Linked DNA regions of Homo sapiens. The protein of the gene in region 3 purifies or fractionates together with the protein of the main gene of each other region. This does not show direct contact. Each region holds a gene or a part of one and is shown on either strand. Other genes may lie near its edges.

Region 1 (5,334 bases), on a different chromosome or scaffold from region 3:
GGGGAGCTGTAGAAAACACTTGCAGAGCCAGGTTTTGCTGGTTTGGGGCATGCCCTGGGCACCAGAGCTTTAACATTTGAAGCCACTTCAGCAGCAGCAGCAAAAGGCGAACTCATCTCTACCCAAGATGTTTCTTTTCCTAGTGGTGGAATTTGAACACTTCTCACTTTTTATTGTATTTTATCTTCCGCAGATAAATGTAGAAATACACGATTCTGTCACCTCTGATCCCTTCCATCTGAAAGGTTACAAGGAGTGTTGTAGCTTCTGAAGGTGCAGAAAACAATTTCTAAAAATGCTTTTATTCCTGGGCTAATCCTGTCCCTCCCTAAGTCACAGCGAGGTGTCTGTCCCAGGGCTGGAGATGCTTCCCAAGGAGGAGTCTGTTTTGTTGAGAGTGGGCGTGGGCTTCTTCACATAAGCCTGGGGAAGGAAGAAAAAACGGCTTTCATTACCAAATAATGTAAAACCTCAAAAGCAAGGGCTTCAACAGCCTTAACCAAATATTATTCCCCATAGCCAGTGGAAAATGGATGTGACAACCCCAGTGCGCAGGCCAGAGTGAGTGAGCCCAGCACGGCGCTCCGACTGGCTTCCTCTCTCAGGTGCTGGATTGTGGGGTTAGTGGCATTTCCAGCTGGATTCCTCCTGTTGTAGTTGCCATAAGGAAATGAGATGCAGAATCAGAAGGATCTATTTCTACAGAATCATTTCACCAGTTAAGCACATGAGTAGAGAAAGAGATAAAAATAAAAGTATCTCATGAAGGAAAGAGATTTTGCCTCTCTTTTACTTTTCACCTAAGTTTCTCTGAGAAATAGAGACAGGATTCTCTCTTTAAAATTCAGTGAAAATGAAGAAAGTTTTCCTGCAGTTGCTAACCTGAGTTGCAGTGTTTAAGGCCATCATTTCACTGCTGCTGTCTGTGACTCCACGTCTGTGTCACTGAGGTGACCTGCGTGTCACTGAGGTGGCCACCATGCTGGCCTGCGGCATGTGCAGGGAGCTGAGGCTGTTTCCAGGTGATGCTGCTGTGTGGAGAAGGTTCTGAGATGCAGTGAGGGAAGAAAGGATCCTGCTGGGGATTCCATTGTAAGCACCTATAATCGGGAATTTTCATGTAACAGCTTTGACATTTAAACATTCTGAGTTTGGTGCCAGCTCAGATTTGATTATATTTTATTTTGGATGGGTGTAATTCACAGCACAGTTCTAATCTCCCAAATCTTTCTGCTTTTTAGAATGAAGTATAAAAATACTTTTCTCACCTGAATACCAAGGGTTGGCCCTTTAGTTGGATCATTGTCATATGACTTGGTAGATCCTTGTCCTCAGCACCTCACGTGAGAGAAGGGAGTCAGCCAGCCGGCCCCCTGCTTGGTGCTCGTGACCAGCTCGCACCCCTTCTGTCCACCCTTCTCTCCTCTCCTCCCCACTCTCCCCACCCTCCTCACTCTCCCCACCCTCCTCACTCTCCCCACCCTCCCCTCCTCTCCTCCTCACTCTTCCCACCCTCCCCATCCCCACCCTCCCCATCCTCCTCTTCCCTTTCCCCTTGCCTTCTCCTCTCTCCCTTCTCTTCTCAGGCAGGGAGGAGGCCATCCCAAGCCGAGATTAACAGGACTTGACATAAGCCATTAGTTTGTAGCTTTGACAAGTAATTATGAATTTTTGTTGCTTATAGGTGCTTATTTTGCAAAGGATGCTTTTAAGATCAAAATAATAACCCTACCTAAAGTCTAGCTCCACTGCTATGGGTCATACTCTTCAGCCTCCCAACAGGGCAGAGAGAGAGAGCTACTGAGGCTTGTCTAGGTTGCCAGGCTAACTGGGCGACTTGTCCATATTCACCCCATGGATTGCACCATGGCACTCTTTGATTTTTCCACTGCAATGGCAAGTAATCTCATCAGTCATAATAGAGCAGTCCCGAATGCGTGCAGATTCTAAAAGCAGGGCTTTAGGAGAGAAACACTGCCAGGGGGAATAGTTTTGGGGAGGGTTTTCCCAAAATAACGGTCATCCTACTGGGTTTATCCCACCCTTAAATATGAAGCCTGTTACCTCCAGAAGCTTCTGAGAAGAATGATGTGAAAAGACAGGGAGTGGGTTCTAGGCAAAGAAAACATAATGACCATTCAGAGGAGTCAGTAGCACAGCTCACAGATAAAGTATTTTATTACTATCTGAAGTTTTCTTTTGTTTTCATGCAGGACATTTTAAAAACGTATATGGCAGCAGAAACCTGTTTCTCAATAGAAAAAATACATTCAGAGGCATTTCTGGGATAGTCTATCTGTGTTAGTATTTGGTGCTATCTATGTCCAGCCAAGTTATCTACCCTCAAATTCTGACTAATCATGTTTGTGCTTTGGGTATTTAAAATTACATACATATATATTCTTTTTGCCAAAAACAAAAGTCTTGCTTCTTGTCAAATGATTGCTAAAGTAGATCTTACATTTTTTGTTATTATGTATGTATTTATACACATCCCCAACACACTTAGTGATTTCTGTTATTTCCTAGGGAGCACAGCTTTAAGGCTATGAGATACAACTAAAAGGAGCCCATCTATTTGGTTTTCCAGCCAATTATTGTACTCACATTTCAGGGGAGAATCTGAAATTCCTGTCATGTTTACAGCAACAATCTATCATTCCTGGCTAGCTCTCAGCCTCTCTCTCCTTCCATAGGTTAGAATTATGTCATTTTGTTACTTAGTGGCCACGTCTATTTCTGAGAAAGACTGGTTACATTTATGTGGCATCTCAGGTATCATTAAGGAAAAGCCAGAGCAGGGGTGAGCAGAGGTCAAAACCACAGACGCAGCAGGGCCATTTGCCGCCTTTGGCCGGGATCACAACCACTGCAGTCTCCCAGCAGGTAGGCCTTGCCAAGCCTAAGGCTCCCCATCCAATCTAGACAGAGGGGCGCTCAGAGCAGACTTTGCCGTAGCCCATGTCTGGTGAGCACAACAGGGAATGAATTGGGCACTCCACTCCCCCGTCTCTCTGGCCCAGCCCTGAACTAGATGAGCTGCATTTCATGGAGCCCATTTTAAAATCTCTTTCCTTATGACTTTGTTACTCAAGTCCAGAGTTCTCTGTGCACTTCTGCTAGATAAGGAGTGTAAGCCCTGCCCCCCAGCACTGGCAGCACGCTGGGCCCTCCCCACACAGGACACCGTGCAGTTCCGGGGGAAGCTGACTCAAATCAACCTTGAAATCTCATGAAAACAAAATGACTTGTCTTTTTATTTGATAGTGTAATATCATTCATTTTATAAATTTTTTAGGGTTTTTCTCGTAATATTGTACAGTTTTGCATGGCCTGGTGTGATCATTTTTTGGTTAGAATATAATGCTGACAAATGTGGATGGAGGGGAAGATACTGCTTTAGCCTATCACTCCTTATTTTATTTTGTTTGGTTTTATGCCCTCAGTGTCTTAGGGAACTTTTTAAGAGATCCTCTGCTACCAAACAATGATGTGGATTCTTTTGCACAGAAATATTTAAGGTGGGATGGTAAAAAATGTCACAAAAGACTCCTCACCAATACTTTATGTTGATATCACTTAATATTAACCAGACTTTGCTGTATTGCAATAAAACAGAGAACTGTTAGCATTGAGTATTTTGTCTCTTTTCCCCCCACTTGAAAGTCTGAGAAATAGAGAAAGGTGCCACCTCTCCGCCTGTCACTTCTCTTCTTTCTGCTGGCCTCCTTCCTCATCCAGGCTGCTTCTTTATGCCGTAAAAGGACATGGGGTTAGTTTGCCCCTGTGGTTTAATCTAGGACTTTCTTAATTTCTTCCTTAGCTCGGGTAAGAATGATGTTCAATTCTCCTGAAGCTTTCAACTCCCCTCTTCTGGCCAGAACTTCGCTGTTGCTGTTACTTCGGTCCACAAGACCAAACCCTGGCTGCGTGAGGTTTCCTGAGTGGCCCTGACAGTGTGAATGTGGGAGCAGTTTGATTTTGTGTCACTTAAACAAGACGGACTGTTACTGCTTTTCTGGAGTTAGAATGGTTCATCTAAGAACATACAGGGAAGGTCCAGGGGTGGGGTTAAAGGAACTCCTGAACTGGTGGCAGCTAAGTAGTTATTCGGAGAATACTTCCGGTTCCAATGGCCCATGGAATTGACATTTGTGGCTGATACTGTTATGTTGGTTTACTGTAGTGTCAGCTGTGCAGTGCTTTAGAACAGGGCTTGGCAACCCTTTTCTGTCCAGGACCAGTTAAGAAATCCTTGTGCCTTTGTGTATATAGTTTGCTGCAGCTCCCCGGCTCTGGCATTTCAGTGCAAAAACAGTCTTAGCCTGCTACGTACATAAACGAGAGTGGCTGTGCCCCAATAAAACTTACAAAAATGCAGTGGGCCAGATTTGGCCCTTGGACCATCATAGTTTGCCAGCCCTTCGTTTGGTCCCCTTAGTGTAGACTGTAAGACTAGACTGTCTTGTTCCAAATCCTCATTCTGCCACTTAACCTCTGGGCCTCTTTTTTTTTTTTTCCCTCTGTAAAAAGGCCCACTTGGAGTGTCAGGAGTTAATGCACTCAGAATCTAACTTCTAGCCTATGGTTTAGTGTTTTGTCCTTATGAGTAACCGCCAAAGCCTACAGTAACAAATATTTTTTTGTTGTGTGGTGTCCAGCCCTTCACTAGATGTTAGGGACACGAAGACACAGACCCTGGGAAAATCAAGCCATGATTTGCCATGTTCTCATGCCCCATGTCTCAGTGTGAATGGGTGAGCACGGGGAGTCATTCATCACAATACTGTAAAAATCAAAATAGGTACAAAAGAATAAGTATGTGTGGCCAGCTTCAGAGCCAGCTTTACTTGGGGATTAAAGTCATTTGCAATCCAGTGATCCCCACTGTCTTCACAGGGAGGGCTCTAGTTCTCAGCCGGCTCTCAGACTTAGGACACACAAACCACATTCCAGTTTTCCCTTAGAAAACTTCTCCTGTTCCAGCAGTTATGGTCGTGGTTCCTGGGGAAGCAAATGCTGGCTGCTGTTGTTCTCCTCTCCCTTCCCCCCGCATGCTGCTGCTTGACTTGTTTGGCTTGTTGTTCAAGAGGAAGAGGAGACTGTGAGAGCCCTGGCTGGGGCTGGCCTGGGTTCTTCCCCTGCTGTTTACTCTGCAGGGCGATGGCTTCAGATCTGAGTGCTGCAGAGGAGTTTGCTAGACAACAGCAAATACCCTTAAGAAGAGGGCCACAAGAGTTTCAGCCAGGGATCTGACAGTGGTGCTGGGCGCCGCTGCTAGCCAGGCAGCCTCACGGACGCCACCCAGGCCTCTCCATCCTGTCCCGGAGCCCA
Region 2 (4,706 bases), on a different chromosome or scaffold from region 3:
TGCGCTCTCAAGTTTGAAAACCATGGCTCTAGAACAAATCCTGGTTGGCCACAAATCCTAGGAGCTGGCCAAAAATAAAGGCTAATTGAAATAACTTCCCAGCACTAATTGGAGCCCTGGTGGGTAGATCTGGGTCTCTTAGGCAAGTTACATAACCTCTCTAGGCTCAGTTGTCTCACCTACAATGTGGACCTATAATAGTACGTGACTCATAGGACAGGCCGTGAGGATGAAATGTGCCTGGCACATAGTAGATGCTCAGTTAATATCAGCTAGTACTATTGTTAGCGACAATGGCCGAATCACGATGGGGTTACTGGACCACGGGGTGTGATTTTAGGGCTGGGGGATATAAGCACTTCACTTTGTCATCAGAAGCTAAGGGCACAGGAAGAAGCTGAGCAAGCAGGGCTGCCTGCTGTCCTTGGAGATCCTTTTCTGTCATTTGAAAAGCATTGCTCAGACGCATTATCATCCGGTGGGGGCAAAACAAGAGGTTTATGATGCAGAACAGGGAATTAAGTTAGACAACAGAGGGCCTTCCTGAGAGTGGGGTTGGAAGGTGCCAGTGTCCTCTAGGGAGGAGGTGAGGCAGGCATCCACTTCCAGACACCCTCCCCGCCCCCGCCTCCACCGACCTTGAGGCGAGTGGGGTTTCCTTGGGGCATCTGCAGGACTGGGGGTGGGTGTGTGTGTGGGGCGGGGTGGCGGGGAACCAGGCCCCCTTACAAGGACTCCGGAGCGGGAGTTTGGAGGCCGTGAGTGGAGAGGCCTAGTCCCAGCGGAGGGGGCCGCATCGGAGTGCTGGGGCGGAGGTTCGAAGCGTGAGAAAGAAGCCTGGGGGCGCTCGGGGACGAGGGGGCGGAGTGTGGCGAGAAGGCCGGGCTGCAGGGCTCAGGAGGGGACCGCGGGTCCAGCGCCCTCCCCGTCCCGCCCCCGCGCGCGTGCACTCGGGCTGGCCCGGAATCCCTCCCCAGGGTGTCTTCTGCCACTGACTTTCCCACCCTGGCTGCGCCCGCGCGCCCCCGCGGCTGCCAAGCTCCAAGCCCCGCGTCGGTCCCCACCCCCGCCGTGTTCCCCCCTGCCAGGCCGTCTTCCTGCGGTTCCCAGGGTCCCGTTTGGCGGCCAGAGGGCGTCGGACTCGGCTGGCCCAGCGAGGTCCAGCCCGAACGTGTCCTTCTGCCTCTCTGCCCCTGGGGACCAGGGAGGAGCCTCCAGGGCGGGGGAACGAGAGGCTACTGGACGGCGGCCCGGGACTGCGGCGGCCGCGTTTCTCTTCTTCACCTTACGGGACCCGGCTCTTCCCCCTCCTCGACCGCCCCGCCCGTCAGTCCTGAAAACCTGGCGAGAGGCGCGTACTGTCCTAGGGGAATTCCCCTGCAAACAGAAGGGAGCCCGCCCTGCGCGTCCTGGAGTGGGTGCGGCAGGAGCGCTTCCAGGCACTGCGTCCCCAGGTGAGGGGCGGAGCCGGGGCGCGGTTCGCGGCAGTGGCCAGGCCTTTGTTTCCTTGGGTTGGGGTGACCCCTGGTGGTCATCCAGAGCGCAACAAGGGCTACTCCCTGGTCCAGAATTCAGTCCTTTCCAGGGGAGAAATGGAGAATGATGGAGGGTGGCCCAGGCGGTGCTGATTGGAGTAGACAGCCATCCTCCCGAGGTTGGCACTGAGGGTGATAGAGACCTACCTGCCTGGCCAAGCTACTCCGCCCTGCCTAAGCATCCCCTTCCAGAGCTCCAGGCTGGTGGGGTTTTATTAAGGGAGGCGGTGCTCCTTACACAGGCCTCTTCCTGCTCCCCGTAACCCTGTCGCTGGAGGTGTCTGTGGGAAAGGCCACCGACATCTACGCTGTCAATGGCACGGAGATCCTGCTGCCCTGCACCTTCTCCAGCTGCTTTGGCTTCGAGGACCTCCACTTCCGGTGGACCTACAACAGCAGTGACGCATTCAAGATTGTAAGTATTTGGAGGAAGAACAGTACAGCCCAGCCTCCCTCACCCATGCCTCGCCTCCTACGCTCTGGTCCCTTCTGGACTGAGACCCACTGCGATGGTCCCCAGAACCCACCTTTTGCCACCCTTTCTCCCAGTATTCTTTTCAGAGCCTGCCAGGAAGGATGTAACTGGGAGAGATGCTTAGATCGTGTTGCCAGAATTCGGGGACTGTTGGAATTCTTGGCTAGAGTCCTCTGTCTGGTCTTAAGAAACACCCGGAGCTTGGATTGCTTGTCTAAAAATCAATAGTTTAGTCTAAGAAACAGGAGAGAGAAAGGCCTTGGAAAGCTTGGAGAGAAGGAATGAGAAGAGTCTGAATGAGGGAAGGGCTGAGAAGCTGGACTGGCAGGGAAAAGAGAGAGGAAGAGAGGGAGAGCTGCAGGAGCATTGGCGCGGCTGCGGTGGGGGTGGGAGTGAACTCACTAGATTGTACTCACTCTACAATCTAGTGGGGGATCCAACCTGAGACTTTCACAGGGAAGCCACAAGAGACCAACTCTGGTTATAATTAAATGCTGACCTCAGAGGGTGCTGACGGGCAGAGCTGTGGGATTGATCCAGGTCTTGACAGGGGGCCAAAATTCAGTTGGGCAGGTGACATGGTGTCAGCAAAGGCTGGGTGGGAGGTGACAGAGGGAGATGAGTGCGGTGCTTGCAGGAGTCATTAGGTAAAAGGCTTTTATGAAGAGAGCAGTAAGAGCTGTGCTGCATTCCAGGGAGACCTTAATAAAAGGAAATGGGTTTAGCCTGAAACAAGTAAAATTCAGGTTAGACAGGCAGAGCTATTGACGCTGGAAGAGGAAACCATGGGGGGAAGGAGCAGGGCGTGACTACAGGCTCTTCCTGGTCCTGGACAGGGGAGGCATCCAAGGAGTGGGCTGGTGTGATGTCATGACCCTTGAGGACCCCGATTCTTTCTCGGCTACTTTCTCACCCCAACTCCCTTCCTCCACCAGCTCATAGAGGGGACTGTGAAGAATGAGAAGTCTGACCCCAAGGTGACGTTGAAAGACGATGACCGCATCACTCTGGTAGGCTCTACTAAGGAGAAGATGAACAACATTTCCATTGTGCTGAGGGACCTGGAGTTCAGCGACACGGGCAAATACACCTGCCATGTGAAGAACCCCAAGGAGAATAATCTCCAGCACCACGCCACCATCTTCCTCCAAGTCGTTGATAGACGTATGCAGTAGGGGCTGGCACAGGGCAGTGGCGTGGGAAGGACTTGGGAGGCACCCAACTCAGCATCACAGTGAAATGGCAAAATGGACCGTGTTGGTGTTTTCTTTTGCTTTACACTTTCCAGAGCTGCTGGAGTTACATCTAAAAGCTAGAAGAGCTCAGCTTGAACACTTATTCTGCTACCAAATAGCTTATGAAATACTCTCTAAGCCTCGTTTTCCTCATCTGTAAAATGGGAATATGGCTTCATTTTCCTAGAGTTGTGGTTAGAGAAGCTACCTGGTAGTGTTTTGTGGCTAGTAGGGTTTTCTCCGTATATACTGATTATTAATACCATTGGGTATTCCATTAGCAAAAATTGATTGAATGTCAGGCATTGGACTAAAAAGTGCTATGAGTGATACATTACATTCTTCCTTGAGGAATTCACAGTACAAGGTAGGACAGAAGATAAATAAATAGCTAGAATGGGCAGAACATGATGCATACATCTGTCAGTAGAGGTGAAAACAACAGAGATGGAGTAAGACATGGCCCTTGTCCTCTGGGGGCTTACATCCTACCTAGGATTCCAGTCTGACACAGGAGGACCAATCATACAAGGAGGGTGCATATGAAAAGGAGCCAGGTGGTCCCTGACCAGACCTGGTGTGGTTAGAGAAGGAGGATATGATAACCAGGGCTGGAGAAGTGAGGCATGGCCCCACTGAGGGGAGGGGCCTGGAAGACTAGGGAAGTGCAGAAGCAGAGAGAAAAAGGGAAGGGGACTTGCGCAAGGATCCTGACTCTGCTGCATTTTGTGTGTACCGGGAGTTTGCTGCTCTCCTGGATGACACTGAGTCCCTGGAGAGGGAGACACCCGTGAGTTCAATCTCGAGTATGCAAGGGCGGAGCCAGAGGTTATCCAATCAGCTTTTCTGAGCCTGGAGTCATAGGTCTGCCTATGGTGTCACCTCTTCCTTTCTGTCTGGGCTTCTGTCACCCAGCTTGTACTCAGCCTTTTCAGAAGGAAGAGAACGGGCATTTGTGGAGCGTTTTCTGGGTGCCAGATCCCGAGTTAGTTGCTGTCATTGATTTTAGCTCCTTTGCTCCTCACCAGCTCCCTTGAGGTGGATCGTCTCTCCATCTGTATGGATTCATTCATCCATCTGTTCAACAAATATTTACTGAGCACCTTGTATGGGGCAGACGTTATTCTAGATTCCGAGGATGTGATATGAACAAGATAGACAAATTCCTGCCTTTATGGAGATTACCTTCCTCCTCTTCTGTGTATGGAGATACCAATAGAAAATAAAGAAGAAAAATGATATTGTAAAAGAGAACATGGCTAGTGTTAAGAAGAAAAAATAAAGCAGGAAAGAAAGATGGGGTGCCAGCAGGGTGAATAGGGAAGGGCTCTCTGGAAAAGGCGATAGAGTGGGGATATTTGAAGGAGGTGAGAGAGGAGCCATGAGGGCATCTTTGGGAAGATAGGGAGGGAACAGTGAGTGCAAAGGCCTTGAGGCAGATGCGTGAAGAATCACAGCAGG
Region 3 (5,340 bases):
TTCAGTCCTGAGTCTCTTGGCTAAGCTGTAGCTCTACCATCACATGGATGATGAGCAAACATCAAGAACACAGACGCCATGGCCACGGTGTGGCTGGACTGCTTGGATTCTGCCACTTACTAACTGTATAACCCAGCAAGTTAATTGAACCTCACTGTGCCTTGGTTTTGTCACCTGTAAAATTAACAATAGTATCTACCTCATAGGATTAAATGAGATCATATTTGCAAAGTACTGCTTAGGATAGTGGCTGGCACAGAGTAAATGCTATATGTTTTTGATAAATAAAACAATTAATAAATGGAAATCTAGGAATGTGGACAAAATTTAAAAGTTGGAAAAGCAAACTTTGGGGCAGCTTGGGGAATTCTGTCACAACTTATTTTTCTGATCACAAGTGCAATGAGAATAAATTTCTTCCCACCCTACCCTAAACTAATGCAATCTCAATTGAGCGGTGGAACATGCTTCATTCACTAATTAGAATTTAAAAAGGAAGTGATAACCTCACGGAGCACAGCCCCATTGACCCTGAGGGTGACTATACAGGACCTTCAATTGCTGATTCTCTCCCATCCTTCTCTGGGATCTGTTTCTCCCACCCTCCCCATTCTGAGGTAGCTGGAAGAGAGTAGGCTTTGTGCCCTTTGGCGAGTACAGGGAGAAAATAGTAGGTTCAGCCTCTCCAACTGCCCAGGGAGAAAGCAATACCTTTCAAGGTCCCCAGGCTAAATTTTGGAGGGATGCTTTTGTGTGTCACTGTCAGGCTCACACCGACATAAACCCTTGAGAAATGCCTGGTTGGTGACGTCCTAGAGGTAACACCAAGCAAGCCCCAGATTTTCTCTTCTTCGTCAGCAATTCCCAGATGAGGTGCTCTTGTGTTTACCCTCTCTGATTGTCTGGATTCCCTGATAGTACCCTCTATACAAGGAACTAGAATGTTTCTTACTGGATTCCTCTGTTGGTGGTGATAGAGTTTACTTTGGGTATCTAGTCGGTCTGGTTGCCCCTGGTATCTCTGGTTGGTACAACAGAATCCTGACTGAGCTCCTTAGTGCCTTCTTGAATACTGTATAATTAACTAGGCCTCCAATTGTGCCCCGCCTTGCCCCAGCCCATAGATGGACAATCCCTCCTGCCATGTCTTAAAGAGAAATTACCATAATAAATGACTCTCCAGACAGCACATTTCCCAGCAAGAGGGGGCATGTAAACCAAGTCTATTAGTATTGGCAGCAAAATCCAATGTGTTATTGTTACCAGTATGAACACTCTGGGTATCCTGGCCTCCTATATAGATATTTGAAACAAAACAGACAAACAATGTGAAGGAAGGAGGAAAAACAGCCACACAAATGAGTTACAGTGAGTTTAATGAAAACTAATTCCATTGCTGGGTCCATGTGATATAACCAGCCACTTGTGCTCTGTTCTAGTGGTTTATAATGTTACCTCACCCTCTCCAAGAAATTGGTTTCCCGTAAATCTCTGTGGCCATTCATTCCTGTCTACACATTATGTTCCTAAAATAGACACCAGCTAAAAATCTCTTCCAGGAGCTTTGTGAAGGAAGGCCTAAATTGCAAAACTCCTCCTAGAAGAGAGATGTGATTTTGTAATTGCTTCATTGCAATTACAAAAGCAACAATCATAAAAGAGAGTTTTAAAAGAGTTTTTCACCACAGTCATTCTCCTGAAATGCACAGCTGAGGGAAAGAAGAATGTCAGATGCCCCGCGAACGTGCAGAAGCTCCCAGTTGCATCACCCTGGCGTGCCAGGTATTGCAGCAAATAGGAAAGGTAAGCTACCCACTTCTCTGGGCAGGAGAAACTAAAGCAGGAATCACCAACCTCAGCATGGAATTTTCCTATTTCTGTCTGGCAACATCCTCTTGGGATGATTTAAAGTGCTTTTTGGAGAAATATGTTCTGTTACTATACTAGCGCATCAGAAATACCACGTGAACCTGTAAATCCATAGAAGAAGAAGACACATTTTATAGGTGTGATAGCAACAGCAATTGGCAATTTGCAAGTTTGCTACTGCACTCAGAAATATTTAGTCACATGCACATATTGACAGTAATATACCCTGCCTTGACTTAATTGTTGCATTGGACAGGTGAAAAGCACATACCCACCACTCCAGACCGATTTGTTAACAATCACCAGTGAGTAATCAAAGAGAACAAAAAGAAATGAGAAGTAAATGCAGCAAGTGGGTCGGGTCTTTAAACACATACCTCAAACAGGTAGGAGTCAGGAAATCCATGATAGCAAAGACATTTGGACAAGCCTCACCTCCACTCAGAAATAATTCTTATGCTGTTCTGAAAAGCAAGACGGTTCACACTAGGAACTGAGCAGTATCTGCAGTATCATTGCTGGTTGTGACCTCTGTCTAAGTAAAAGTAAGTCAATGTTTCCTATTTGGCATTGGATAGAAAAGGGGACTCTTTACCACTCTGCTCAAGCTCTTTTTTAGTGTGGCTCAATAGGAGTTGGCAGAGGTGGGGGGCGGAAATCATTGCCCCTTCCTTGTTCAAGGCATGAGGCATTTCTTCTCAAAAGCCCAGCCTCAGCCTCAGGAAGCTGAATACCCCTGCAATGCTAGGCTCCAGCAGCAGCCCCGCTGCCTTCTTTCTTCCTGTGGAGTTAAAACTGAGATCTAATTTTTGCTCCGTCCTTAAGAACAATATGACCTCTATTCCCAGCCAGCTAGTCCACTTCCAAAGCACCAGTGAAGGAGGGGGCTTCAACAGGATCAAAAGGGACCTTGAATAGGATGAAGGCAAGCAAAGGCAAGAACTGGCCAGATGCCAAGCTATTTCAGGCCAAAGAATCCCATCTTCTATCAAAATGCTGAACTGCAAAACAAACCTGATTTCAGTTCATGGAAGGTTGAGAGAGGAGGGGGGAGGGGAGGGGAGGAGAAGAGGAGGAGAGGGAGGAGGGGGACAGTTGGTCTGAATACACATACAAAAATGGACTTCCTGCTCTGCCCAAACTGAATTTCCATGGACTCTTTTTCCAAAGGAATAACTGGAATGAATAAACTTAAAATCAAGATGAAACAATTAGATGGCTTACCTGATTAAAAGGAAAATTATCCATCTGCAGTGAGGAACAGCATCACCCAAAGACGAGATGATAACAATGTGCCTTCAGTTGCAATTGTTCAGATTCCTTCTTGCAAAAGGTGTCAAAGTATTTACAAGGGCTGCAGTCTCACTGGGGCAGAACACACAGACACACAAACACACACAAACGCACACATACACACATGCACCAGAGACCTCTGCAGTATCCTCTCGGCTTCATCCTCGCCTCACTCTATGGTACCTAATACAAATCAGCAAATAGCTTGTTTCAAAAAAAAAAAAAAAAAGTCAAGACAGCACCTTACATTACATCGCCATCTAGTGGCTAAATATTAAACACTTTCTCACAATCCAGATTTATGATTTCTTCCTCAACCTCTTTTCTCTCAGCCTTTTTTCCTTTCTTCTCTGTAATCTCCCAGTATTGCTTCTCCTTGCTTCTCTTTCATTCCCTATTGCTATATAATATCATGAACCTAATGACTCAAAGAGGAAAAGGTTTGAAAGTAAATATAGCTATTTTCAAGTAGTACTTGAAAAACTTTAGCATTATTTTAGTTTGAAACTGTTACTTTATTCCTAATATGAATCATTGTTATCTATAAAAATGATATATCTTATAAATAAAACTGTCTTTTTATTCCACCAGGAAACAATCAGGTGGCCCTTTATTACAGATCTATGGCTTCACATTTTTCTGTTTTAATATTGTGTTTTAGGATTAGGTTTCATATTATAGTGAACAGCTCAGAGTCACAAAATGTGAGTTTTACTTCAACACTGATGAACACATGCCTTTAACAAAGCCACTGAAGTCTTCTATGGACATTTACATTCTTACTATCTTCATCTGTAATTACAGATTAAACAAGACTTTCAACCCACTCTCAATTTCTATGGTTTTACTATATTTTACTCCAATGTTTTCCCATCTTGTGGACACAGCCTAAAGCTTAATTATAATAACACATTTTAATAAGCAAATATATATAGAAAGAGAGTCCAATTGCCTATTACCCAAAGATAGAATTATAAAAACCATGAATATCAGTTTTTTCTAAGACAATAAAAATCCATGCCAAACTAATTATAACTCTTGGAACTGAGAGTAGAGCTTTTTATGTTATATATTGTATTCTAAAATGGAATCAGCCTTAAACATTCAGTCATACATAAAATCACGATTATGTGTAGATTAGTCATTGGAAGTAAATATTTCATCCTCATTATTTTTCTTTTGCCATCTAACACACTTATTACAATCATTGCATGTGTTTTATCATTTATCAATATAACCTTCAATATTTAATCCTTCTCTTCCTTATTACAGGATGGTGAGATAAATACTATTAATGTTATTATATTATAATTATTCCTATTTATACTTGAGAACACTGAAGCTTTCTGAGCCTTACTGAGGTTTATTCAAGACCACATAGCTTGCAAAGCAATAAAACTAAGGCTGTTGGTCCCAAGAGCCCAAAGAATAATCCACTGTTCTTTGCAACATACCTAAAAGTTCACCATTTTTTCCTGTTCTAGAATCACAGAAAAGTAATTTTGATTTCTATGTTTACAAAACATTTACTAGCCCTTAATTATGGACCAATGGGTCCATCTTGTGGATCCATCTTTTTATCTATAAAAGAAAGAAATTAAGTAAGATAATTTCCTGTTCCAGCTCAAAAACTCTATCCAGTGCTTTCCCAAAAGCCAGTTGGAGTAGCATGAACACATTCATTTGAAGTTACTCAATGTCTGGGAAATGATGTTGCCCAGTATCTGGTAGAGTCAGGGCAAAGTTGAAAGAAGATGAGGAGACAGGTGATCAACAACTGGTAAACGATTGCCAAGATGTTAGAGATGAAAAGAGAGTGGGAACTGCATGAACTAACAGGCAATTTTTTTAGAATAATACATTCCATATGAATAGTACTTAGAGATTAGATATGTAAAAACACAAAATAAGAACATACCTGGCCACATGTTTTAATGAATTCTAATTGCATATTATAGGTGCCAATTTTTCTGAGTGTCTGCTCTTAACAATTCCCCCAATAGTTCTTCTCCCCTGATCCTTAGTGGTAAACCTACCCTCTTGCTACAGAGGACTGGAGCAAGAGAGGGTATCTACGCAGCTGACCTGGTCAAAGAGAGCCACTACATGTGATTCTGGCAGCTATGGAGTCAGCTTTCCCTCACCATGGGGACTCAGGACCAGGTGGACCAGGATACT
Region 4 (4,706 bases), on a different chromosome or scaffold from region 3:
TTTTCTGACATTGTGGAATTATTTCCTCAACTTTACTGATTTTTTTCTGGCCAGAAAAATTCAGATGTAGCCCAGAGGGGTGGAGTAGGGAGATAAAATTGATCTTTCAAGATTTCATCTAGGACTGGTGTTCTGAAATTTTATGTACCTACCAACACCCATCAAAGGCTGTCATTTGTCAGGTGCTGTGTTGGGTGCCAGGAATCACAAACACGAATGAGATGTGGTTCTGTCCTTCAGGGGCTCATGGTCTCATCAGTAGGTGGGAGTGGGTATCCCTCTTGAGGTTAATTCACTCATTCCTTTTACATCTATACACTGGACTCCACGTGTGTCAGGCCCTGTGCTGGGCACCAGAGGTTCCCTGATGAAGAGACAGTCCCAGGCTCTGCTGCCCAGAATGGCAGCCATGGGTGATCCTTTCCTAGCCAGTGGGAAAGGGTCAGTCAGCCAATATAAAAAAAGGGAAGTGGCCGGGCATGGTGGCACACGCCTGTAATCCCAGCACTTTGGGAGGCTGAGGTGGGTGGATCACCTGAGGTCAGGAGTTCGAGACCAGCCTTACCAACATGGTGAAACACTGTCTCTACTAAACATACAAAAATTAGCTGGGCATGGTGGTGGGTGCCTGTAATCTCAGCTTCTCGGGAGGCTGAGACAGGAGAATCGCTTGAACCTGGGAGGCAGAGGTTGCAGTGAGCTGAGATCGTGCCACTGCATTCCAGTCTGAGTGACAGAGTGAGACTCTGTCTCAAAAAAAAATAAAAAATAAAAAATGTCCGGGAGCAGTGGTTCACACCTGTAAGCCCAGCACTTTGGGAGGCCGAGGCGGGTGGATCACCTGAGGTCAGGAGTTTGAGACCAGCCTGACCAACATGGTGAAACCCTATCTCTACTAAAAATACAAAAATTAGCCAGGCATGGTGACAGGTGCCTGTAATCCCAGCTACTCAGGAGGCTGAGGCAGGAGAATTGCTTGAACCTGGGAGGCGGAGGTTGCAGTGATCCCCAGATTGAGCCTGGGGGACAAGAGCAAGACTTTGTCTCAAAAAAAAAAAAAGTAAAAAATAAAAAAAAGGGAAGTTACTGAAAGAAAGAAAAAGGGGAATAGAAAATGTGTAAACGTTCTTCCACTTGCCCCATCAAGTGTACCTTGAAATTTAATAATGATGAACTCTTTTCAAAAGAAAAACAGTGATATCAGTATTAACAGAGAAAAAGAAATTCAGCCTGGCAATATCCCTACCAGTTGTTGTGAAAAATGCTATCCCAGCAGTCTGAGATGTAGTCAGAAGCAGAGTAGAACCATCGAAGGAGAAAAACCTATGTAGAGAGAAAATGGATGATGGTCAGGACTAAAGCCGGAAGGGAGAGTCCCTCTACCCTGCAACACAGTGCTGCTGCTGGACCTCTGCTCTGAGCAGAAATCCGCCACCAGCACTGTGTACTCACAAGCCCTCCTGGTGTCCCACCCTTCCCAGCCCCGATGCTCACAGGGGCAAGTTCATCGGTCAGGTCAGGAAGCACTGCTTCAGAGGACAGAAGAGCTGGATCTTTACGCAGCTGGTCGAGATAGCCCAAGAGGATAAATTTGTCACTCTCACTCCCAATCCAAGGGTCTTCCAGGGTTTTATACACCACCCTTCCTGCTGTGTTGCGCCTTTCTAAAATAGACACCTGGAAGAAAAGTAGAGAAAAAACATCAGAAGTTTCAAAAGCATGGTTAAGTTACAGTTGTTTGCTTTTTTTTTTTTTTTTGACGGAGTCTTGCTTTGTCGCCCAGGCTGGAGTGCAGTGGCGTGATCTTGGCTCACTGCAAGCTCCGCCTCCCGGGTTCACGCCATTCTCCTGGCTCAGCCTTCCCAAGTGGCTGGGACTAGAGGCACCTGCCACCATGCCTGGCTAATTTTTGGTATTTTTTTTTTTTTTTTTTTTTTTTTTTAGTAGAGATGGGGTTTCACCATGCTAGCCAGGATGGTCTCGATCTCCTGACCTCGTGATCTGCCTGCCTTGGCCTCCCAAAGTGCTGGGATTACAGCTGTGAGCCACCACACTTGGCCCAGTTGTTTGTTTTTTGAGACAGAGTTTCGCCCTTGTCTCCCAGGCTGGAGTGCAATGGTGCGATCTTGGCTCACTGCAACCTCTGCCTCCCAGGTTCAAGCAATTCTCGTGCCTCAGCCTGCTGAGTAGTTGGGACTACAGACAGGTGTGCACCACACCAGCTAATTTTTGTATTTTTAGTAGAGATGAGGTTTCACCATGTTGATTAGGCTGGTCTCAAACTCCTAGCCTCAAGTGATCCACCCGCCTCGGCCTCCCAAAGTGCTGGGATTATAGGTGTGAGCCACCGCGTTCGGCCTAAGAAATAACTTTTATGGTGACTTTCCTAAGCTTTTGTTAAAAGTTAAAGCTCTTTTTTCTCAATAGACTTTGCTCTATAACCTTGACTTAATATTAATGGAAACCTTTGTTTTTTAGAGAGATTTTCCATGATTGCGAAAATGATGAAAAGTCAGAGGAGAATTTCTTGTTTCTGTAGGAAGTGATGACAATGCAGGAGAAAGGCAGGAGAGATCAACCAGGATGAAGTTAAAGAGGCAGAGGGGGGCAGAAATTTCCAGAGCACATTACCAGTGGCCTAAGGATTTGTAAAATCTAGGATCTAGGATGCTGCAAGACCAGACTTGCCTTAGTAAAAAACTGGTGAAAAGCACTGATGACCTTTACCGTTCACTGATAGAAAACATGGTTTCTGTGGGGGCCTGAGGCTGACATCCAGAATGTAAAAAGACCAGGTCAAAAACTGTTTTAAGAGTAGGCTTTAGGCCAGGAGCAGTGGCTCATGCCTGTAATCCCAGCACTTTGGGAGGCGGGAGGATTGCCTGAGCTCGGGAGTTTGAGACCAACCTGGGCAACATGTCGAAACCCTATCTCTACAAAAAAATACAAAAAATTAGCCAGGCGTGGTTGTGTGTGCCTGTGGTCCCAGCTATGTGGGAGGCTGAGGTGGGAGGATCACTTGAGCCTGGGAGGTCGAGGCTGTAATGAGCTGAGATCATGTCACTGCACTCCCAGCCTGGGAGACAGAGTGAGACCCTGTCTCAAAAGAAAAAAAAAAAAATCAAGAAAAAGGAAAAACAAAAGAGTAGACTTTGAAAATAGGCTTCAGAGTTTCAGATTTCCTAGAATCTGTATTCAACACTCTCAAGGAAGAAGGAAACAGAATCAAGTGCCACATGGTTATGAAGAGCCTGGGATGAGGAGAGACTCTGTGGCTTACCGCTGATTTCCCTTGAAACGCCTCACTGTCTGGTAGTAAGGTGTCGGCAAACTCCTGCTGCCGATTGCTGTAGACATGCACAAATCTCACTGTGTCTTGAGTGTTTGCCAGGGCAAAGGACAGGAAAGCCTCAAAGGGTTTGCTCAACTTGGTAGTCTCAGCAGTCAATAAAACCACACAGTACCTGCACAACAAAAAGACAAAACTTTATAACCAATCCCTGATGGCAGGGCCAGCACCTATAATGGCAAGTGAAGGTGAAGAAGACGAGGAGCTCATCTTATGGAAGTGAATACACTGTGCCCAGTGAAAGCTGACATTTCAACTAAGGGAGGATTTCCAAGTCATTAACAAACTGTTTCTCTTCCCAATCTGTGATGTTTTTCCCAAACCAAACTTCTTTACCACATTTACGAATTTTAAAATTTTATATATATGAAATTTTATATATATGAAAACTATATATATATAGTTTTGTTTATATTGCCCAGGCTGGTCTTGAACTCCTGGCCTCAGACAATCCTCCTACCTCAGGCTCCCAAAGTGTTGGGATTACTGGCATGAGCCATCGTGCCTGCCAGGAATTTAAGGGGTTGGTCACTGAATCTCTGATGCAGCAGGGCCTTTCATTTTATTTTTTGAGATGGAGTCTTGCTCTGTCGCCCAGGCTGGAGAGTGTAGTGGTGTGATCTCGGCTCACTGTAACTCCGCCTCCTGAGTTCAAACCATTCTCCTGCCTCAGCCTCCCAAGTAGCTGGGATTATAGGCGTGCACCACCTCACCCAACTAGTTTTTGTATTTTTAGTAGAGACGGGTTTTCACTATGTTGGCCAGGCTGGTCTCAAACTCCTGACCTCAAGTGATCCGCCTGCCTCAGCCCCCCAAAGTGCTGGGATTATAGGCGTGAGCCACTGTTCCTGGCCGGCAGGGCCTTTTAGAAACTATTTGTCCTAGTTCTTCCAGTATAGGGAGGGCTGGTCAAATCTCTCTCAGGCCAGAGGCCACTGAGCCTCATTCTGAACGGCTTCCTTTGCAAGGTTCCAATGGAAAGTTTAGCTATTCATTCTCCCAAAAATATTTACTGAGCACTTAGTATATGTCAGGTAATATAGACAATATTATTGCCCTCATGGAGCTTATATTCCAGTGGGGAAGACAGAAAACAGATATATTATGACAGGTATCAACAAGTGCTATATATTAAAAAAAAAAAAAAAGATGAAAAGGGGACAGAGAGAGGCCAGAGTGGGTAGAAGCCAGGCTCCATCAGACAGGTTGGTCAGGGAAGTGCCAACTGAAAAGGTGACATTGTTATGACAGGAAATGGGGTCAGAGCATCCCAGGTAGAGAGACTACAAGTGCAAAGACCCCAGGATGGGGAGTGACTGGATCTGATTTGCATTTTCAAACATTATTGGCTGACGTG
Region 5 (3,500 bases), on a different chromosome or scaffold from region 3:
TGGATCTCTGGCCTCCAGCACTTGCAGCTTATCTGTGTGCCACCCGCTTGTGCAGGCCCACCCTGCTGGTAAGGCCACCCTGCTGGTGAGGCCACTCTGCAGGGAGGAAACTGGGGCTAAAGAGCCTCTTTGCCCAAATTAGTTTTGGTGTGGATGGTATGGGGCAGCGCAAAAAACACTCACGCTGGCCTCTGCCTGCTAATGTGAACAGGGGAACCCAGCAGGAAACAGAGCAACCTGATCTAACCCCAGGTGAGGTGTGTCACATACCTGGCAGTGGCAGCAGCTGCATAATGAAAGTGAGACTTAGGGCCACCTGGATACAGGCGCTCCTGGTGCTCACTGATGCATCAGGAGCCATGCAGAGAAGCCCAGGACATGGGAAAGAACCCAGATAGTCTGTCTTTTCCAGGCACACACCAGCTGAGGAGGCCAGGTGGCTGCATGAGCTCCAGTCCACCCCAGCCCTTGACTGCAAGCCACTTCCTATCTCTGGGCCTCCTCTGTGAAATGGGGGTAGGCTGCTTCTCACAGGATTGCAGCAATGTTTACACGGGGCAGTGCCTGCAGAGGGCCCATCACAGGGCCTGGCACACAGGGACAAATTCCTGAATGCTTAGAAACAGAAATGTTTGGAAGCAATGCTTCTAAAATGAAATGCCCAGATGTCTAATGGCATCCACCACTCTGCCCCAGCCCTGTTCCCTCAGGTATCAGGGTCTTGCTCACTGGGGCACTTGGCAAATATCCCTCTGCTGCTGATTCTGGGAGGGCCTTTGGGTAAGGCTCTCTGTGCCTCACAGTCTTCTCCTTGGGAAATAAGGGAATCAGATCAGGTCTCCAAATATTTCAAAAGCTGGGCAAACCCCTCTGCCAAATCATAATCTTAGGGAGCATCTAATACATCAAATGGATGGCAGCAGAGCCACTTTGGGTACAGTGGGGGTGGTGACTCCCCTTGGTCCCATCCCTCCTCAGCTTTCCTACCCCTGAGAGCCTCAAGGGAACACCTCAGAGCAGCTGGAAAGCTCTGGTCTAGATGTCCTTGCTAGGTGACTTGGTGCTAGGTGACACACACTGTCTGAGCTTTGGCCTCAGGCAGATCCAGGGGCCCAGGAGGGCCAGAGCACTTCAGCTCAATGTCCGGTATTGCCACCGCTGTTCCAGGACCTCCAGCACTTACCGCAGTGTCCCACAGGGAGCAATGTTTGCATAGTGCTAAAGTCTGCAGGCTGATATGTCAGGGAACCGACACTGAACCAGGAGTCAGAAGCTGGAATTTAAATCTGTTCTGTGCTAGCTGTGTGTCTTCAGAGAAGTCTCTTTCCCTTTCTGGGCCTCATTTCCTTATTTGTAGAGAGGATTGTACCGGATGATTTTATAGCCCTTCACAACTTTAAAATGTTTTAAGTATGTATATAGGTATAGATTAAGAGTCTTAAGGGATGCCTATCCTTTGATCTGCGATTTTATGTTAAGATATTACTCCAATTGGCCGGGCGCAGTGGCTCACGCCCGTAATCCCAACACTTTGGGAGGCCGAGGTGGGTGGATCACGAGGTCAGGAGATCGAGACAATCCTGGCTAACACAGTGAAACCCCATCTCTACTAAAAATACAAAAAATTAGCCGGGCGTGGTGGTGGGCGCCTGTAGTCCCAGCTACTTGGGAGGCTGAGGCAGGAGAATGGCGTGAACCTGGGAGGTGGAGCTTGCAGTGAGCCGAGATCCCGCCACTGCACTCCAGCCTGGGTGACAGAGCGAGACTCTGTCTCAAAAAAAAACAAAAGATATTACTCAAATTACAGACAAAAGATGTTCATTGCTCCATTAATTAAAGTAATAAAAAAATTGGAAGCAACTTAAATTTCCAACTATGGGCAGCAATAGGGCATTCATTTCCTCAGTGCAAGGTGCAATGCAAGGTTGGCCATTCTAATTGGGATTCTTTAATTCTAATAAGAATGGACATTAACAGTGATGGTTATGAAGGCAATGTAATAGTTCTAATAAAAGATGGATATTAACAATGACGGTTATGAAGGCAATGTAACAACAGGGGGAAATGCTTATCACAATAAACAAGAAAAAGGCTGGGTGCAGTGGGTCACGCCTGTAATCCCAGCATTTTGGGAGGCCGAGGCAGGCGATCACCTGAGCTCAGAAGTTCAAGACCAACCTGGGCAACATGGCGAAACCCCGTCTCTACTAAAAATACCAAAATCAGCCAGGTGCAGTGGCATGCGCCTGTATTCCCAGCTACTCGGGAGGCTGAGACAGGAGAATTGCTTGAGCCTGGGAGGTGGAGGTTGCAGTGAGCCAAGATCGCACCATTGCACTCCAGTCTGGGTGACAGAGTGAGACCTTGTCTCAAAACAAAAAACAATAAACAAGAAAAGACAAATGTGAACCAAGTGATCACTGCTGAAGACAAACAAACTGCAAAATGCTGCAAAGAGAGGCTCACCCTCACAAGTGATCCAAGAACTGCAAAATAAAACGAGATACTATTTTTAACGCTATCAGATTGGCAAAAATGAAAGAGTGATCCTATTTAGTGTTGGCAAGAATGTAGGGAAAAAGGTGTTCTCACAGACCATTACTACAAGTAGGCATAAACACAGCTCTTCTCGAGGGCTGTTTGGTCATATCTATTAATATTTAATGTGCTCAAACCTTTGTGTAACAAAGTCCATTTTTCTGACTCAATCCTACACAAATATTTGTACAGAAGGACAGGATAAATGTGAGTCTTAAATCTTCAATGCAATCTTATTTGTAAGAGCAAAACAGTTTATGCAACATAAATGTCAGTAAGGGCTAAATTAGGCCAATTATTTACATGCAAAAATGGGATATTACAGAATGAAATGAAGACATGCACACATACATATACACACACACACACACAGAGAAATAGGTCTCGGCTGGGTGTGGTGGCTCACACCTGTAATCCCAGTACTTTGGGAGGCTGAGGTGGGAAGACTGCTTGAGGCCAGGAGTTCAAGACTAGCCTTGGCAACATAGCAAGACCCCATCCCTACAAAAAAATTTTAAAAATTAAAAAATTAACCAGGCCGGGCACAGTGGCTCGCACCTGTAATCCCAGCACTTGGCTTGGGAGGCCAAGGCAGGCAGATCACCTGAGGTCAGGAGTTCGAGACCAGCCTAGCCAACACGGTGAACTCCATTTCTACTAAAAATACAAAAATTAGGCAGGCATGGTGGTGCATGCCTGTAATCCCAGCTACTTACGAGGCTGAGGCATGAGAATCGTGTGAACCTGGGAGACAGAGGTTGCAGTGAGCTGAGATCACGCGCTGCACTCCAGCCTGAGCGACGGAGTGAGACTCCATCTCAAAAAAAAAAAAAAAATTTTTAACTGGACATGGTGGCACACGCCTGTAGTCCCAGCTACTTAGGAGGCTAAGGCAGGAGGATTGCTTGAGCCCTGGAGTTCAAGGCTACAGTGAGCTGTGATCGTACCACTGTACTCCAGTC
Region 6 (4,706 bases), on a different chromosome or scaffold from region 3:
CTTATACTAGAGTGATCAACTTGTATCAGTAAAATTACTTGTCAAATTAAGATATCTATCTGATCTGGCACAGAGAAGTCTGAATATATAACACCTTTGATATTTAGGTATTTTTGAGACAGAGGTACAATAAAAATTATGAATAAATAATAGAGATAAATACCACTCAAATCCTAGAAGCTATGGAATTCTGAGTTGTAAACTTGTAAGTGCTGAAGAAGAAATCCATCTAATCTATATTTGTTTATCTTTTCTGTACCTACTATTCATTAGTGATTTGTCTCCTTTAATATTATTGAAAGAATTGCATATATCCTATGTTGATTTTGCAGATAAGACTGAAATATATTTCCATTTCTTAAAAGTAAAAAAAAAAAACTGCATTTATTGAAAAACCTATTTCTGTGTTCTTTCACCTTAGCTCTGGAACATTCTTCCTGGTAGAAGCACTCAAAGTTCTTTATTCCATCTACTATCCTTAGTTTCCTAAGAAACTGAACATAAGGATCACTCTATCCAAATGCACAGTCCATATTCTTAGCGATAACTTTCTTCCCTTAATACCCTACATTCTTCCCTCTCTAATAGCCTAGGCTAGTAATCCTTCAGAAGGAAATAATGAAGTGTCTTTACTTCTCTCCCTTAAGATTAAGATATATTATCATATCACCCTGACTCCTTTCATCTCAGCCCCACCTTGATTCTTCTAGCACATGTTCTACAAAGCAATAACTCTCAGCCCAAATGAAAGAGAAAGAATAGGGGAAAAGGGTACTCAAATGCCCTTAAAAGCTCAAAAGTCTTACCTAAAGATCCTCAGTAAAGTCTTCCCTGTCCATCTAATAGCCAACTTAGGCCTTTGTAATTCTTTTACTCCCCCGTCCAAAATTCTCACCCATAGTTTTGCCATATTTATAGCCTGGGGAAAAGGAAAGGGAGAAAATATATGCCAGTTTTTTGCCCTAAAATGGAGATTTTATTCTGCTTACCACCAGTCTTTACTGTCAGATTACCTGAGTGCAAATTCTGACTTACCATGTGCCCAAGGACAAGTTACTCTACTTCTCTGAACTTTAGTTTTCTCTTGTGTATAAAGATAATAATAATTCTTCATAGGACTGTTCTGAAAATTAAATTAGATAACACATGTAAAGCACAATATTTAGTACATTAGTACTGAATAAATATTAGCTGTAGTCTTTAATGGTGGTTCTTTATTCCTTTTTTTAAATCTGTGCCACTGATGCTGATTAAAACCCCTCATTGAGGAAGGAAGAGTGGGTACAATTGGATATTAGGGCAAGTGTCAGATCTCTATTAGTTTCAGACACCAGAAGAGATGCAGGTTTATCTAAGCTGGCTGGAACAAGTCAGCTATAGCTTGTACAAGCCCTTTAGTTACACAGATGGCTATAAAAACTGTAGAAGCCAGCTAATTCTACCTCTTCTGCTTTTCTTTTTCAAATTGACACATACCACCTCTTGAAGATGGAGGAATCATTGGTTTCATGTCCTATTCACAATCTGGGTAATATAGAAAAGGGTTGGGAGTTTGAAACCTGTAGTGTTTTGACCATAAGGTGATATCCTAAATTCTAGTGGGCATCAAAGTTTTTCCTCTTTTGTCTATATCTTGCTGTAATAATTAATTCCCTGATTTTCCTTTCTATCTAGGATTTTAATTGATTCTCTTCAGTTGTATTTTAGTGTATTTCTGGGCCTCGTTACATTTTGTTATTTTTCTCAATCTATCAAAATCCGTGCATGTACTTTCTACTATCCATACTTCTTTACTATTTAATGTCTCACCCACTCTCTTATAGTGGCATATTTCTTTTGCTCTAATAACTAAATCTCTTACAGGTAGGAAGCTTACATAACTAATCATTATTCAAAGAACTAGAAAATTAGACATTTGAATAGATTAGTCTCAGATGATCTACAGGACACTATTTTGTCAGCTAAAGAATAGCAATTGTATCAAATCAGTACTATTTTAGTAGATTTTCATTACCTAATATTACTTTTAGTGAGTATAAGTAATATATGTATGTACTGGTATCTATGGCAGTACTGTGTACAGTGAAGAAACAACATAACTTTTTGAATGAATAATTTCATATGTACTTGAAGTAGTTTTGATTCTCTTGATTAATAAAGTGGTTCTACAGGTAGGAACAGGCATGGAGTAGGCACTCAGGAAGTGTTGAATGAAGTAAAGATCTGCTAAAAGTTTAATGGGATTTCGTCAGCCCTTGTAAAATAAAGAGTTATAAAACTGACAGAGAAAGGTTTATGGCTATTTATAAATATTTGTAGAGAAAATTTTAAAATAATTGTCTCTGAGTTGTTAGTCATACTAGAATGCTAGATTCATTAAGCAACCTAATGCTTCTGTTTACTAAGCTTCATTTGGCCAATTGTGAAATGAAGAGGAATTGTTAAGGGATTAACATTGTTTTCTCTGATTATTTTAGGTATTATTTTCGTACACGACTTAACAAATAAGAAGTCCTCCCAAAACTTGCGTCGTTGGTCATTGGAAGCTCTCAACAGGGATTTGGTGCCAACTGGAGTCTTGGTGACAAATGGGTGAGCCAATTTCACAATTGGTTTGAAAGATTGTAGCAATCACAGGAATGTACTTCCCTGAATAACACTTTGTAAAATGTTTGATTTGCAAAGATTTTTCTTTCAGTGTATAGATTATCTTTTCCTTTTAACAGTATCTTTCACAAAGCAATAGTTTTCATTTTGATGAAGTCTGATTACTCTTCTTTTCTTCTATGGATTGTGCTTTTGATATCATGTCTCAGAACTCTTTGCCTAATCCTAGATGATGCAGGTTTTCTCTTATGTTTTCCTCTACAGATTTTATGGTTTTACATTTTTATAGTAAAACATTTATATAAAACATTTTAAGTTTTATAGGTTTGCATTTAGATTTATGATCTAAGTTAGTTTTGTACGAGATGGGAGGTTTTGGTTGAGGTTAACGTTTGCATATGAATGTCTAACTATTCCAGCACCATTTATTGAAAAGATATCCTTTCTCCATTGAATTGCTTTTGCTCCTTTGCCAAAAATCAGTTGACCATATTAGTATGAGTCAACTTCTGGACTCTAGTTCTGTTCCATTGATCTATGTGTCTGTCCCTTCACCAGTACTACGCTGTCTTAATTATAGTCTTAAAATTGAGCAGTATGATTCCTTCTACTTTATTCTTTTTCATAATTGTTTAGCTATTATAGTTTATTTGTTTTTCCACATGAATTTTTAGAATCAGCTTGTCTATATTGACAAAAATTTTGGTTGGATTTTTATTAGAATTGCATTGAACCTATTGATCACATTGGAGAGAATTAACATCTTTATTCTGTTGCATCTTCCAGTTCATGAACACAATATATCTCTAAATTTATTTAGATCTTCTTTTATTTCTCTTACCAGCATTGTGTAGTTTTCAGCATACAAATCCTGTGCATGTTTTATTAGATTTATACCAAAATATTTAATATTTTTTAAGCTATTGTAAATTGTTTTTTTGTTTTGTTTTGTTTTGTTTTGAGACTGAGCCTTGCTCTGTTGCCAGGCTGGAGTGCAGTAGCACGATCTCAGTTCACTGCAACCTCTGTCTCCCAGGTTCAAGCAATTATTGTGCCTCGGCCTCCCAAGTAGCTGGGATACCTGGCTGATTTTTGTATTTTTGGCAGAGACAGGGTTTCACCATCTTGGCAAGGCTGATCTCGAATTCCTGACCTCAGGTGATCCACCTGCCTTGGCCTCCCAAAGTGCTGGGTTACAGGCATGAGCCACCATACCTGGCCATAAATGGTATATTTAAACTTCAGTTTCAAATTTTCCATTGCTAGTATAAAAAAAAATAGAATTGATTCTGAGTGCTGACCTGTATCTTGTGACCAGAGTTTTTTAGTACAATCCTTAGGATGCTCTACATAGACAGGTTTATTTCTTCCTTTTCAATCTGTGTGCTTGTTGTCTTATTTCTTGCCTTTTCGCACTGGCAGCAACTTCCAAAAGGGTACTAACTAGGAGTGATAAGAGTGAATATCTATGTCTTACTCCAATCTTAGGGGGAAAGCATTCATTTCACTATTAAGTATGATGTCAGCTTTAGGTTTTTTTTGTTGACATCATTTATCAGGTTGAGAACATTTCTTTCTATCCCTAATTTGCTGATAGTTTTGTTAATATCATGAACAGATACTGAATTCTGTCAAAAGCCTTTTCTGCATCAATTGATATGGACATGTGGCTGCTTCTTTAGGCTGTCAGTATGGTGGATTACGTTCACTGATTTTCAATACTGGTGGATTACATTCACTGATTTTCAAATATTGAACCAGCCTTCCATTCCTTGGTCATGGTGTATTATTCATTTTATGTGTTGCTGGATTTGATTTGCTAATATTTTGTTGAGGATTTTTATCCATGTTCATGACAGGCATTGGTGTGTAGTTTTCTGTTCTCATAATGTCTTTGACTGGTTTTGGTGTGAGGATAATGTTGGCCTCATAGAATTAATTGGAAGTATTCCTTCCTCTTCTATTTTTTGGAAGAAATTGAGTATATTTGGTGTTATTTCTTCTTTGAAGGTTTGGTAGAATTTACCAAGAGACCATCTGGGCCTGGAGGTTTCTTATTTGAAAGGTTTTTAACCACAAAGTCAACTTCTTTAGTAATT

Evidence for each region.
Region 1: the proteins of SCN1A (region 3) and CDC42BPA purify together in Homo sapiens (affinity purification with mass spectrometry, with the first as the bait; one large-scale study listed by BioGRID). This does not show direct contact.
Region 2: the proteins of SCN1A (region 3) and SCN4B purify together in Homo sapiens (affinity purification with western blotting, with the first as the bait; one study listed by BioGRID). This does not show direct contact.
Region 4: the proteins of SCN1A (region 3) and DNAJC16 purify together in Homo sapiens (affinity purification with mass spectrometry, with the first as the bait; one large-scale study listed by BioGRID). This does not show direct contact.
Region 5: the proteins of SCN1A (region 3) and DHCR24 purify together in Homo sapiens (affinity purification with mass spectrometry, with the first as the bait; one large-scale study listed by BioGRID). This does not show direct contact.
Region 6: the proteins of SCN1A (region 3) and RABL3 purify together in Homo sapiens (affinity purification with mass spectrometry, with the first as the bait; one large-scale study listed by BioGRID). This does not show direct contact.

What each region holds. Positions count from the first base shown.
Region 1 is NC_000001.11:226,988,159-226,993,492, reverse strand, and holds the end of CDC42BPA (serine/threonine-protein kinase MRCK alpha), read left to right. Parts: 3' UTR 1-3,628; downstream 3,629-5,334. UniProt on the Homo sapiens protein: Serine/threonine-protein kinase which is an important downstream effector of CDC42 and plays a role in the regulation of cytoskeleton reorganization and cell migration. Regulates actin cytoskeletal reorganization via phosphorylation of PPP1R12C and MYL9/MLC2.
Region 2 is NC_000011.10:118,142,301-118,147,006, reverse strand, and holds part of SCN4B (sodium channel regulatory subunit beta-4 isoform 1 precursor), read left to right. Parts: intron 1-1,573; exon of another isoform or gene 1,574-1,777; coding exon 1,778-1,950; intron 1,951-2,945; coding exon 2,946-3,174; intron 3,175-4,706. UniProt on the Homo sapiens protein: Regulatory subunit of multiple voltage-gated sodium (Nav) channels directly mediating the depolarization of excitable membranes.
Region 3 is NC_000002.12:166,124,678-166,130,017, forward strand, and holds the start of SCN1A (sodium channel protein type 1 subunit alpha), read right to left. Parts: upstream 3,344-5,340; 5' UTR 3,094-3,343; intron 2,334-3,093; 5' UTR 2,247-2,333; intron 1-2,246. UniProt on the Homo sapiens protein: Pore-forming subunit of Nav1.1, a voltage-gated sodium (Nav) channel that directly mediates the depolarizing phase of action potentials in excitable membranes.
Region 4 is NC_000001.11:15,560,900-15,565,605, reverse strand, and holds part of DNAJC16 (dnaJ homolog subfamily C member 16 isoform 1 precursor), read right to left. Parts: intron 3,465-4,706; coding exon 3,281-3,464; intron 1,678-3,280; coding exon 1,495-1,677; intron 1,324-1,494; coding exon 1,247-1,323; intron 1-1,246. UniProt on the Homo sapiens protein: Plays an important role in regulating the size of autophagosomes during the formation process.
Region 5 is NC_000001.11:54,866,696-54,870,195, forward strand, and holds part of DHCR24 (delta(24)-sterol reductase precursor), read right to left. Parts: intron 1-3,500. UniProt on the Homo sapiens protein: Catalyzes the reduction of the delta-24 double bond of sterol intermediates during cholesterol biosynthesis.
Region 6 is NC_000003.12:120,703,886-120,708,591, reverse strand, and holds part of RABL3 (rab-like protein 3), read left to right. Parts: intron 1-2,477; coding exon 2,478-2,592; intron 2,593-4,706. UniProt on the Homo sapiens protein: Required for KRAS signaling regulation and modulation of cell proliferation. Regulator of KRAS prenylation, and probably prenylation of other small GTPases. Required for lymphocyte development and function. Not required for myeloid cell development.